Regions from separate parts of the Homo sapiens genome. Here regions 2 and 3 are each linked to region 1. Evidence: fine-mapped expression QTL. A gene starts in region 1. Each other region holds a variant in brackets. All regions are shown on one strand. Distances are between the middles of the regions. Region 1 holds the start of HEBP1 (heme binding protein 1). Region 2 holds the start of GPRC5D (G protein-coupled receptor class C group 5 member D). Region 3 overlaps GPRC5D-AS1 (GPRC5D and HEBP1 antisense RNA 1).

What was found. PIP is the estimated chance that this variant, and not a neighbour inherited with it, causes the effect. A credible set is the group of variants that fine-mapping cannot tell apart.
Region 2: its variant is the best candidate, but not a certain one, in a credible set for the expression of HEBP1 in whole blood (INTERVAL, PIP 0.54).
Region 3: its variant is the best candidate, but not a certain one, in a credible set for the expression of HEBP1 in whole blood (TOPMed, PIP 0.83).

What each region holds. Positions count from the first base shown.
Region 1 is chr12:12,997,850-13,002,050 of GRCh38, forward strand. It overlaps HEBP1 (heme binding protein 1), which reads right to left and starts at 2,416. Exons shown (of 4, transcript NM_015987.5): 1 at 2,188-2,416. The coding sequence starts at 2,265. The region is part of intron 2 of GPRC5D-AS1 (GPRC5D and HEBP1 antisense RNA 1); the gene reads left to right. It also overlaps the pseudogene HTR7P1. RefSeq lists silencers at 2,281-2,430, 2,481-2,600, 3,361-3,510 and an enhancer at 3,935-4,201.
Region 2 is chr12:12,949,689-12,953,889 of GRCh38, forward strand. It overlaps GPRC5D (G protein-coupled receptor class C group 5 member D), which reads right to left and starts at 2,482. Exons shown (of 4, transcript NM_018654.2): 1 at 2,419-2,482; 2 at 1-741. The coding sequence starts at 696. All of the region lies in intron 1 of GPRC5D-AS1 (GPRC5D and HEBP1 antisense RNA 1), which reads left to right. The variant C/T (reference allele first, on the strand shown) is at 1,516.
Region 3 is chr12:12,966,215-12,970,415 of GRCh38, forward strand. All of the region lies in intron 1 of GPRC5D-AS1 (GPRC5D and HEBP1 antisense RNA 1), which reads left to right. Among named protein-coding and RNA genes, the nearest start is that of GPRC5D, 16 kb to the left of the region's middle. The variant A/G (reference allele first, on the strand shown) is at 1,914.

The DNA of each region.
Region 1 (4,201 bases):
CAGGAACCTTCATCAGGGCTGTTAGGAGAAAGGCTGTGGTTCTGAGTAGGGCAACTACTTGATGGGGAGGCCAGTGATGCTGCAGACCTTATCAGGTGCCTTTTTCATTGCCCAGGGAGGCGGATAGACAGCTCTCTGTGTTGGCTTGGGTGGGTCCTTTGGATGCTCACAGCAGGACTGATATTAATAACTGGCATCCTTATTGCATTTGTGTCCAGCCTATGCACAACTATGTCAGTTTCCCTACTCAAAATCACAGCCTCACTCCTAATACTCCCTATTCCTCACTCCCCTGCTTGCTTTTCTTCACAGCACTGATCACTATCTGATCCATGATACATTTTATTTGTTCATTAGCCAATAAAACATAAGTTCCATGAGGGCAGAGAATTTTGCTGGTTTTAATCTTTTATCCCATTGCCTAGAAGAGTGCCTGGCACATAGCACTCAAAAAACAGTTTTTGTCGAATTATTTTTAAATTGGGTGATTTCGCTAAGAATCTGGATGTATGGTTTTCCTTAAGAATTTGGCAACACTGTTTCATATATCACTGCATAGCAACAAGTGGCTGGAACTGCCGTTTAGAGATGGGGACCTGAGTTCACTCTCTGATTTGCCTCAGTCCCCACTATGCCTTATAGCCTAAAACAGCCAGCTTCATCCATTTCCATTACCTGCCTGGTTGCTGCAGGTATTCAAATGTGGGACCTCTGATCAGGGCTAAACTGTTCATTCTACATAGAGCTGGGGAAACGGAGATAAGAACAGGTGAAAGGTCTTTGGTTGTCAAAGAGTTCAGATTAGAGTCTAATTGAGGGCTTTCGTGATATGAAGATCATTGTACTAGGTATCAGAACTTGGCCCCCAGGCAATACAGTCCTTTCACAAATGAGGCATCGTATTGGGAGCTCTGTATACAGCTGCACTGTTTAAACTACCTGTCCACCAGGAGATTATAATCTAGCAGCACTCTCCTTGTTTTCAGGGGTGCAGTCCAGTTAGCCCATGTTAGCACTGATATAAATTTGGGGGAAGACAGCAATTATGCTCTTCTCACTCATTCTGTATTCTAGGTACCCAACTCCAGAGGATCTAACTGGCCAAAAGCAATGGTACAGCTCTGGGCCTTTGTGCATGCTCTTCTCTGTTGTGTGCACTCCTACACATCCCTGAGGCCCCAGCTCAGGACACTCCACTGAGGTCCCCATCATAGCCCCCTGGCAGAATTGACTGCCTCTGTGCTCCCTGCGTAGCGCATTTATATCTATTCTGCACAGATCTTGTTCTTTTACACAGTAGTCCCCCTTATCTATAGTAGATACCTTCCAAGCCCCCCAGTGGATACCTGAAACGGTGGACAAAACTGAACCCTGTATCTACTACGTTTTTTCCTATACATACATACCTATGATATAGTTTAACTTTATCAATTAGGCACAGTAAGAGATGAACAACAATAATAAAATAACAGCAATTATAACAATATGCCAGCATTGCTAAGCTTGCACTTTGGGGCCATTACTAAGTAAAATAAGGGTTACTTCAATACCGCCACGGTCGATCCGATCACCAAGCTAGCTACTAAGTGACTAAGGGCGGCTACTAGAGATAGGAGGCTGACCTTGGACAAAGGGGCATTCCGGTCCCAGGAATCAAGATTTCATCCTGCTACGCAGAATGGCCGGAAACTTAAAACTTAGGACTTCTGTATTTCTGGAATTTTCCATTTAATAGTTATGGACAAGAGCTGACCACAGGTAACTGAAATCGCGGATAAAGGGGGCTACTATCCGCAGTTCTCTAGTACTTGGGAGTTTCTTGCGACACTCATTTCTGCAACCGAGTGTCTCTCAACAAATCAAACTGTTCGGAATGTTTGGAATATTTTAAACGAAAGAATGCATTCAACAGGCAGTGCCCAACTCCCCAAGTTGGGATTCTCTCCTTGGATCAGTCTCTCCTGTTTACCCCCCTCCTCTCACCACCGGCTGCAGGGGGACCTCTCACTCCTTTCCTTCCCAGTCCAAATGCTGGGCGGTGGAGAGCCGCACTCGCGACAGACACCAGAACGCACCTTCGATAGCACATTCCTGCCCCACCTGCCCCTCAGCACCCGCTGCAGCCCCGACGAGGGTGGGGGTGGGAGGCAGCAATCCTTCAGGTCCTCGGCAGCCCTGCGGGCCTACCTTGTCCCCTTTGCTTAGGACCTGCCAAGGCCACGTCTCTACGCTTCCGAACAGCGAGTTCTTGATCATGCCCAACATGTTGTAGCCGAGACGCTCCCGACGCACGGGAGGACGTGAGGTGGCGGGGGCGACGGAGCACCACGGGCAGCGACCACCGGCGGCAGGGCGGCAGGGCGGCAGGGCGGCAGGGCGGCAGGGTGGCAGGGCGGCAAGGCGGCGGGACGGCGAGGCGGCGAGGCGAGAGGCGGGGCTAGAGGCAGGGGCCAGAGGGCGTGGCTAGAGGGCGGGGCGGCAATTCAGCCCGGCGGTGAGGCAAGGGGGCGGGACGGCGAGGTGAAGGGGCGGAGAGAGAGGGCGGGGCGGCGAGGCGAGGGGGCGGAGAGAGGGCGGGTCAGTGATGCGAAGGGCGGGCAGCAGGGCAGCAGTGCAGCAGTGCAGCAGTGCGGTGAGGCGAGGGTGCGAGGCGGCTAAGCAAGGGATGGGCCCGCCGTGGCGAGCCGCTGGGCCGTGTTCCGCCTCCTTTCGGGCTTTCCGCGGGTGTCTGGGGAGGGAACCCGGCCGCGGGCCTCAGGCCGTCCCCCTCCGCAGACCCCTTCTCTTATTCTGAGTCTAACCTATCCGCTGGGGCCCTGGAAAGCGATTCTCGCCTGGAGTGGCTTTAGGCAGCGGTGGTGGGGAACGTCCTCTCTCAGGTGCCTGGGCTCCAACCTCCGAGCCCCGGGTTGCTCACGCTTCTCCGGTCCTCTACCCGAAGGCTCGATCCCGCTGGTACAGCGGCGGCCAGGCTCCCTGTCTTGGTAGCTGTCCCTCTACCCCCGCCCCATGACCTCTTCTAGACCATTGAAAGAGCATCCAAACCACTTTCCTGCTGCCACTCTTTCCTACCATCCCTCTAAATCACAGTTTCCAGGTGACTTTTCTAAGCATGGCTTTTCTCGTTCACTCCTGTTCAAAAATCTTCTCACCAATTTTGTCACCATTTACTCAGCTGAGTGCCTGCTTTCTGTCAAGTATTTTACCAATAAATCTCTACTCCACACCACCGACAAGAAATATTTTGGAGCCATTTAAAAAGGAGGAAACGGAAGCTTCTGCCGCTGCCTGATCCTCCATTGCTCCGAGCCGCGCGGGTGCAGCGGGCTGTGGAGCCGCGGGCCGAGCCCCGCCGGAGCGCCCGAGAGCCCGCGCGTCCCGGGCGTCCGTCGGGGTCCGAGGTCCCTCCCTCAGGGAGTCCCCGCTCGGCAGCGCTCTCGCGTTTCACGCAGCGGCCGGGGATCTGGGACAGGCGGGGCCCCGAGGCCGAGCCTGGCGCTGCCCAGCGGCCGGTGCAGGCCTCAAGCTGGGCCGGGCGGAGGGGAACCGGCGAGTTGAAGCCCCGGGGCCGAAAGCCGGAGCCTGTGGCGGCCGCGGGGGTGGGGAGGGGGGTGGGGCGGCTTCTTGGGCAGCGCCACACGGCGGCGCAGTGATGGATGTTAACAGCAGCGGCCACCCGGACCTCTACGGGCGCCTCTGCTCTTTCCTCCTGCCGGAGGTGGGGGGCAGGCTGCCCGACCTGAGCCCCGACGGTGGCGCCGAACCGGTCGCGGTCTCCGGGACGCCGCATCTGCTGAGCGGGGGCCCCCGAGGTGACGGCCAGCCCGGCGCCCACCTGGGACGCAACCCCGGGCAATGCCTCCGGCCGCGGGGAGCAAATCAAGAAAGGGCCGAGAAAGTTGTGATCGGCTCTGTCCTGACGCTCATCTCTCTGCGATCGCGGGCAACTGCCTGGTGGTATCTCCGTGTGCTTCGTCAAGAAGCTCCGCCAGCCCTCCAACTACCTGATCGTGTCCATGGCGCTGGCCAACCTCTCGGTGGCCATGGCGGTCATGCCCTTCATCAGTGTCACCGACCTCATCGGGGGCAAGTGGATCTTTGGACACTTTTTCTGTAACGTCTTCTCCATGAATGTCATGTGCTGCACGGCCTGGATCTTGACCTTGTACGTGATCAGCATCGACAGGTACCTTGGGATCAT
Region 2 (4,201 bases), 48 kb before region 1:
CTGGAACTGCGGGTTGCCTCTCAGGAGCATGGAGATCCACACCACCCAGATGATGATGGAGAAGAGCACAGTGATAAAGATGAGCCTTCCATGCTGCTTCCAGTTCTCACACGGGCCACAGAAGGTGGCTTTGGAGACGAAGAATGTGAGGGCCATCAGGAAGAGGACATAGACCAGGAGTACAACAAAGTCCACATTGAGCTGGCAGGGTGTCATATTCACAAACATCATACCTCTGGTCATGATGAGAGTCACATACTCAGTGGCAATAATGATTTGCAACAGACTGCAACCAATAGCAATGCACAGAATTGTCGTCCAGGAGAAGGAGACACAACCCCGAACCAGCTTCACTAGATTGGAGGCATGAGCTAAGAGGCATGAGAAACAGAGAGCAAAGAGAACCCCAAAGAGAAAGTAGCGTACGGGGGCAGTTTGTTGATTGAGCTCGATGATGAAGGCAAAAGCGAGTCCGAAGAGCCCCAGGACACTCAGGAGGAAGAGGAGCTGGGTGGGGAGGACATTCCACTGGCTGCAGTCTTGGATCTTTCGCATGAGGAAGAGAAATGCTAAGAGTAGCAGAATTGTGACCACGATGCCAAGTATGGCCAGGGACTCCAGAATGATGCCCCATGGCCCCTCGGCGTCACAGAGAAGAAAATAGTCTCCAGTGGACTCGATGCAGTCCTTGTACATGGTGACTTATGGGTGTGGACCTCACCAGAATGGTTTTCTGATGCCCTGCAGAAAAAGGATGAGACAAATTGACAACTCTGCATCTCTTAGGTTGGTGCAAAAGTAATTGTGCTTTTTGCTATTAAAAGTAATGGCAAGAAGGCTGGGTGCGGTGGCTCACTCCTGTTATCCCAGCACTTTGGAAGGCTGAGGCGGGCCGATCACTTGAGGTCAGCAGTTCAAGACCAGCCTAGCCAACATGGTGAAACCCCATCTCTACTAAAAATACAAAGATTAGCCGGGTGTGGTGGTGCACACTTGTAATCTCAGCTACTCGGGAGGCTGAGGCAGGAGAATCGCTTGAACCCAGGAGACAGAGTTTACATTGAGCCGAGATTGCCCCACTGTACTCCAGCCTGGGTGACAGAGTGAGACTCTGTCTCAAAAAGCAAAAAACAAGGCAGGGTACAGTGGCTCATGCTTGTAATCCTAGCACTTTAGGAGGCCAAGGTGGGTGGATCACTTGAAGTCAGGAGTTCAAGACCAGCCTGGCCAACATGGTGAAACCCCATCTCTACTAAAAACACACATAAAAAATTAGCCGGGCATGATGGCATGCGCTTATATTCCCAACTACTTGGGAGGCTGAGGCAGGAGAATTGCTTGAACCCAGGAGGCAGAGGTTGCAGTGAGCCAAGATCGCACCACTGCACTCCAGCCTGGGCGACAGAGTGAGACGCTGTCTGAAAACAAAAACCGAAAAACAAAAAACACACAAACAAAAAAAGTAACGTCAAGAACCGCAACTGCTTTCGCACCAACCTAATACCTACAAGAATG[C/T]CTATTGGGTGGTCCATGCTGGGCACTGTAATTTCTCTCATTCTGAAATGAAGACACCTGGGCATATGAAATAAATGTCCTTACCAAAATTGTTCCTAGGACACTGTCAAGAGCCTGAGTTACATTTTGTTTGACTCCTGATACTTATCTAAATGCTAAGCTTCCCTGGGGGAAGAAATTCAGAGATATATGCAAACATAGTCTAAGGGGATGGGAAATGCCATCACACATATTACCCCAAATTTATAGCAGTTTTATATAGGATGTCAGTAAAGGAAATGAGAAAGGCAACCTAAACCCTTCAAAACTATCTTGGCTTCATCCTGCTGGGAAAAGCTGAACAGGCTTCACTTGATAATATGTCCATTTGTGTATGCTAATTTCCAAGGCTTTGAAAGCTAATACAAAATCTTTTTCATAAAAGGAGGTGTATGAGAATGTTTGCATGATTGATGGAATTCAGTTATATCAGACTCCAGAACAAGGACTGCCAACATTAATGGATCATTGGATCGTTCTAGACACTGATGCACTGCTTGAAGGAGACAGGCAGATAAATTACTGGGAATAAAATTTCCCAGTAATTTTAATGACTGTTCCTTCTTTCAGTTAATTCAAGTCAATCCAATGCAGCAGGTTGTAGTTAAACACCTATTGTGTGTTCATCAAAGAATTGTACAAAATGGTCCCTTTCTTTAAATACCTTTTTGAACAGTTTAGTACGAAAGTCCATGTCTTGACTGAGGTAGCCTAGGAAAAAGATCCCACATATTCATTTGAAAAAAAAAAATCAATTGCAATTGAATACCCCTTAGCTCTACTTCCCTTCAGTTATCCCCAGACCAGATGGCTGGAGTGACCCAGGTTTACAGCTGAGAACATGGCCCCCCAATTCCAACTTACCTTCTCCGTGTCCACTCTGGAAGCTTAGGCTGTAGTGCTGGCAAAGTTGTAACTGCCAATGAGTAAGAAAGAGCCAACCTCAGCTTCTTTAATCTCTCCCCAAATGGGCGGAAGAACCGTAGGCTCTCACTGAGGTTCCTGCAGTATCTATAAAAAGAACCGGAAGGACAGAAAGACACACCTATTCCAGTTTCACAGCAACTTTTCTACAGAGATTTCCTTGGTGAGAATAATTCTTTTTCATTCTACTGCTGACCAGAGGCACCTTGGCCTTAGGGAGCGGGTGTAAATCTGAAAGTGGGTATAAATCTAGGAAAGACGGCTTCCTCCCTGTGTATTGCAACACATTCAGGGAAGCTACACAAGGCCCTCAGGTGACTTACACCAGGATACCTCGTCCTTCTTCTGACCTATTGCCTAAAAAGCCATCTCTGGAGACTTTCTCACATCTTGATTTTTTTTTTTTTTTTTTTTTTGAGATAGAGTCTTGCTCCATCACCCAAGCTGGAGTGCAATGGCACGATCTCGGTTCATTGCAACTTCTGGCCTCCCGGATTCAAGCAATTCTCCTGCCTCAGCCTCCCGAGTAGCTGGGATTACAGGCGCATGCCACCACATTTTGTATTTTTAGTAGAGACGGGGTTTCACTATGTTGGCCAAGCTGGTCTCAGACTCCTGACCTCGTGATCTGCCCGCCTTGGCCTCCCAAAGTGCTGGGATTACAGGTATGAGCCACCTTGCCCGGCCCCCACATCTTGATTTTAATTCAAAAGAGCATCCATTCAACAAAGTACAGGTAATGAGGTTTCACTGGGCCATAAGGAAGGGTGGTTTTGTCTACTACTGGCATTAAAATGGCCAGTGGCAGGCAAAACTGTGAATCAGTCTGTGAATTTATCCCAAGATAAAGAACTGACAATTAAAGGTCACCGGCTGATACTTGAATACCATATTCCTTTTCTTCTATGGTGACACAAAATACAGCACAGCACAGTGTCCAGCCTACACCCACCAACCGCACCCCGCCACCTCCAATTTACTCCTTGATTTTCTTCCTGAATATATGTTTGTTTTTTTTTTTTTTTGAGATGGAGTCTCGCTCTGTCGCCCAGGCTGGAGTGCAGTGGCGCGATCTCGGCTCACTGCATCCTCCGTTTCCTGGGTTCAAGTGATTCTCCTGCCTTGGCCTCCCGAGTAGCTGGGATTACAGGTGCATGCCACCACGCCCGGCTAGTTTTTTATATTTTTGGTAGAGACGGGGTTTTACCATGTTGGCCAGGCTTGTCTTGAACTCTTGACCTCAAGTAATCTGCCTGCCTCTGCCTCCCAAAGGGCTGGGATTACAGGTGTGAGCCACCACACCCAGCCCCTGAATATATGTATTTCGACAGAGGACTGCTGAAGACCCCAAACCAGTGTCTGGTTTCAAGGTGCTTGTGATCTGGCTCTCCCTTTCTTACCCACCTGTACTTCCTTCACATCTCCAGGCTCTATGGTTTAGCCTCCTTGGTTTTCCCACTGGCTCACAAAAAAAATAAGTTCCCAAGTGCTCACCTCTGTCCCTGTCCGAAACTGCCTTGTGCTTGATTCCCATTTATCCTATTTTTGACCCAAATTCATTCCCTCCCTGTAGGATTTTCTTCACCTTATCTCCTCTATGACTCTTCCTGCCTTCCCTCATCATTCTAGACCTCGCTGATCACCTTCCACCAGGAACTATACAAGACTTGGGGTCTGTTCTGTTCAAAATTACAGAAACCCTATTTTCTGCCTATTAGTTAAC
Region 3 (4,201 bases), 32 kb before region 1:
GTGCTGTTTGAGGTATCTGCAAATTCCTTGTATGAATATGTCAAGTAGGTCACTGGATATATGCATCTTGAACATCTGGATTTATTTCTGCATTTTTGTACTTTTCTTCATGTGCCAACTTCCTGTTGGCATCCTAAGCAGGTACCAGGCTGGTGCCACAGTCAGGACACCCCTCTCCATCCTCATTCCTCACCTTTCTTTCAGCAATTTCATGAATTGGGAAACACATTCATTCATTTATCCATCCCACAATCATACACCAAGCTTTCACTATATACTGGTACACAGCTGGGAACTGAGGCTACAAAAATAAATAATACTAAATATCAGCACTCAAGAAAACCACGTCTAATTGGGGCTGGTAAATTAAACAGTTGAGATTTATGCACTGTGAAGTATGTGTAACTTGAAGAAGAAATTAATATTTCCCTGACCCTATCTCTCTTCCTACTAGAAAAAGACCCCAAAAAGAGGGTGGATCTTATCCATTCCTTAGAAGCCCTTACAAATGGCACTTTTACAACTTTTGTTATGTTTATTTTAGGTCAGGAGCAATGGCTGACGCCTGTAATCCCAGCATTTTGGGGGCCTAATCGGGCAGATTGCTTGATGCCAGGAGTTCGAGACCAGCCTGGCCAACACGGTAAAGCCGCGTCTCTACTAAAAATACAAAAATTAGCCAGGTATGGTGGCACACGTGCCTGTAATCCCAGCTACTCGGGAGGCTGAGACACGAGAATCATGAGATTAACTTGAACCCAGGAGGCGGAGGTTGCAGTGAGCCTAGATTGCACCACTGCACTCTGGCCTGCGTGACAGAGTGAGACTCCGTCTGAAAAAAACCCAGAATTTTTGTTACGTTTTTGTATCAATGAGGAATTGTTCAGTGTATGTCTCAGCAGTGAACCCATTTCTTATTTCCGCATACCTGAGGGTGACATTTTGAAAGGAGATGAGATGAAGAAAAAAATTAAGAAGAGAGATGGGCTGTAAATAAATAGGAGTCAATAGGTCATGGATGGTCACAGAACCCATGTGCACGATTTTCATGGTCATGGATGACCTGCTGTTGGGAGTGGGCACAATGACATGATGCAGCCAGTAGAGGGTAGAGAACCCTGTCCTGGGGACACCAACATTTAGGGCTGGGCATGGAGAGATGCGCTTATGAAAGAAGTGGGGAGGTAGTCTGAGGCAGGTGCACCTGGAGAATGGCAGGTCACAGGTACCAGAGGAAGAATACCAGGGAGAAGGAGAGGTCTCAGTATTGAACAGTACAGAGAAGCTGTTCAGCCTGATAAAGGCCAACTATTCTGGACTTCATGATGATCAGTTTCAGAGAAAGTAAATGTCAATGAGTGGAGGAAATGAGGGGGAAGGATGTAAACACTCTGTGTAAAGTCATTTGTAAGACAATTTATAGAGGTAATGAGAGAGCTGAGATGTACCTGGAAAGCAAGATTAGATTGAAGGAAGATGTTTTTTGTTGTTCTAATTAAAGAGATGTGAGCATGAATTTGTGTTGAGAAGGAGGAGGCAGAGACCAGGGAGAGACTGAAATAACAAGGACAGAGTAGATGGTAGAATGAAATTCCTGAGCAAGTGAGAGACCTGGCCCCCAGCACAGACGACACAATGAGCTTTGGATGGAAGGTGGGACACCTCATCCTCTGAGAGAGGGAAGGAGGCAAGGGTAGTGTTCCCCAATGACCGAGAAGCCTCTTCTCCTAATAATTAAATCAACTCTCGTAAGTCCACTTCCTCCGTGGAGCCTTTGCAGATACATCCAAGTGCTGAAGCTTCCTTTTGATTCTTAGAATGGTTGAGGCTTTGCTGGGCTCTGCCTCCAGTTTAGGGCCCCCCTCATAAGACACATTCTGCTCACACCGGCAGACACCCTGGTGTGAATCCAC[A/G]ATCTGCTAGCCCCTAAGAAAGGGCTCTAAAAAGTAAGCAGAGACAACAGGATCACAAACATACATTATATATTCAGAAGTATGTCATAGACATTATGTAAGAAGGGGCAATAGTCTTGTGTTTGTATTGGTGGCATAAGAATTTCTTTTAGCTGAGTTTTACTATATGAGAGAAAACAAGGGCTGCTAATTTGACAAGCGGCAAATAGGTTGCTGCTGGGTATCTATGCTGCTTCTGGAGTTTTGATCTCATGGAGTTTGTTCATCTAAATTCCAGGCAGTGGCACATACCCTAGGGACACAGGGATTATCTCACTGCCACTCTGGCTGAGCCACGGAGTAAATTATACAGGGATGAGGGAACACCCACCCAGCATACTCACTGGTAGATTCACACCCTGTCTTATTTCCTTTCTTGCCAGCCAGGGAAACCAGCCATTGAACTAAGCATTTAGTGTTGTACTGCAGAGCAGATAAGAGCATGGGCTCAAATTCTGACTCTGTCACGGATCATCTGCGTAGCCTGGAGCATGCTAATGAGCCTCCCAAAGCTGCCCCAGTTCATCTGTACATGGGGTAGAGATGACAGTGCTAGTGAACACCTCATAGGGCTGTGTAGAATACATAAGGTAGTCCATGTAACAAGTTTGCACAGTTCCTGGGACGTGGTGAATGCTCAATGAATATTAGCTATCAGTAGCTCTTATTTTTTTAAAATTCCAGCCAATCTACATTAATACAACTGAGCATCTATGGTGCACACATCCTTTATGCTATGGGTGTGGGGTGGGGATTATAAATCATAGAGAAAAAGGAGTGTTCCTGAAGAGACCAAGGAAGAATTCAAAGACGTTTGAGCTGGACTCTAAAGGGATTGGGGATTGTAGGTATGGGAGCAGTGTGAGTGAAGGCATGAAGGAGGGGCGGTGGGGAGGCTGCCAGGGGAACCAGCAATAATTCCAGTGCTGCTGGAGGGTAAGGAACCCAAAAGGGAGCAAGAGGCAGGATATGAGAAGAGGCTGGGGTTTGAGCCCACTCTTGAAACGACTTTTTTGGCTGGGCGTGGTGGCTCATGCCTGTAATCCCAGCACTTTGGGAGGCCGAGGTGGGCAGATCACTTGAGGTCAGGAGCTCAAGACCAGCCTGGCCAACATAGTGAAACCCCATCTCTACTAAAAATACAAAAAAATTAGCTGGGTGTGGTGGTGCACGCCTGTAGTCCCAGCTACTCGGGAGGCTGAGGCAGGAGAATTGTTTGAACCGACGAGGTGGAGGTTGCAGTGAACCGAGATCGCACCACTGCACTCCAGCCTGGGCGACTCAGTGAGACTCCATCTCAAAAAAAAAAAAAAAAAAAAAGACTTTTTGATGAGGGTCTAATTAATTCATTGCCAAGGAGAGAGGAGGTCTTTTTACCCGAAGTTTGATTATGCAATAGCTCTTCATTGCCTACACAAATTTTTGCCATACCTTCAGCCCATTCTGGCATTTCCACCTTACATGGTTTGATTCTTGATTCTGAATTTGCGGATATTGTTTGGGTCTGTCCCCAATTCCTCTAGAATAATGTTGCTATAGAAACAAAATTACTTCTAAGGAAAAAGGCTAGAGCTAGTTAGAAATATAAATTCAAAGGCAAGATCCATGGCATTCAATCAACTATATACCCACCAATGCGGCATGCTATGAAACTTTAATTACTGTGCTCAAGATCAAAGTAACATTACTCAGGAGTGGAGAAGCCAAATGTAATTAAGGAGGTCTTTCTTAAACAAGTGATGACCAACTAACTCCCTGAGCTCAGCCAGGCCTTCCACTGTATTTATATACAGTCACCCAGGGCCCTTAAACACTCACATGAGCATGAGAATGTGGTGTTGTGCTGTGGGACATCCAGAACAAATTTTACTGGGTGAGGCTCACAAAACATACAAGGAATATTCATGCCTCGGGAAGATGGCTTCTGGAGGAGGGAAAACATCCTTATATATGCTAATCTGCAGAGGCAGCAGCTTTATTTATTTATTTATTTATTATTTATTTTTTTTGAGACAGTCTCGCTTTGTCACCCAGGCTGGAGTGCAGTGGTGCGATCTTGGCTTACTGCAACCTCCACCTCCTGAGTTCAAATGATTCTTGTGCCTCAGACTCCTGAGTAGCTGGGACTACAGGCACATGCCACCACACTTGGCTAATGTTTGTATTTTTAGTAGAGACAGCATTTCACCATGTTGGCCAGGTGACTCTTGAAGTCCTGACCGCAAGCAATCCACCCGCCTCTGCCCCAC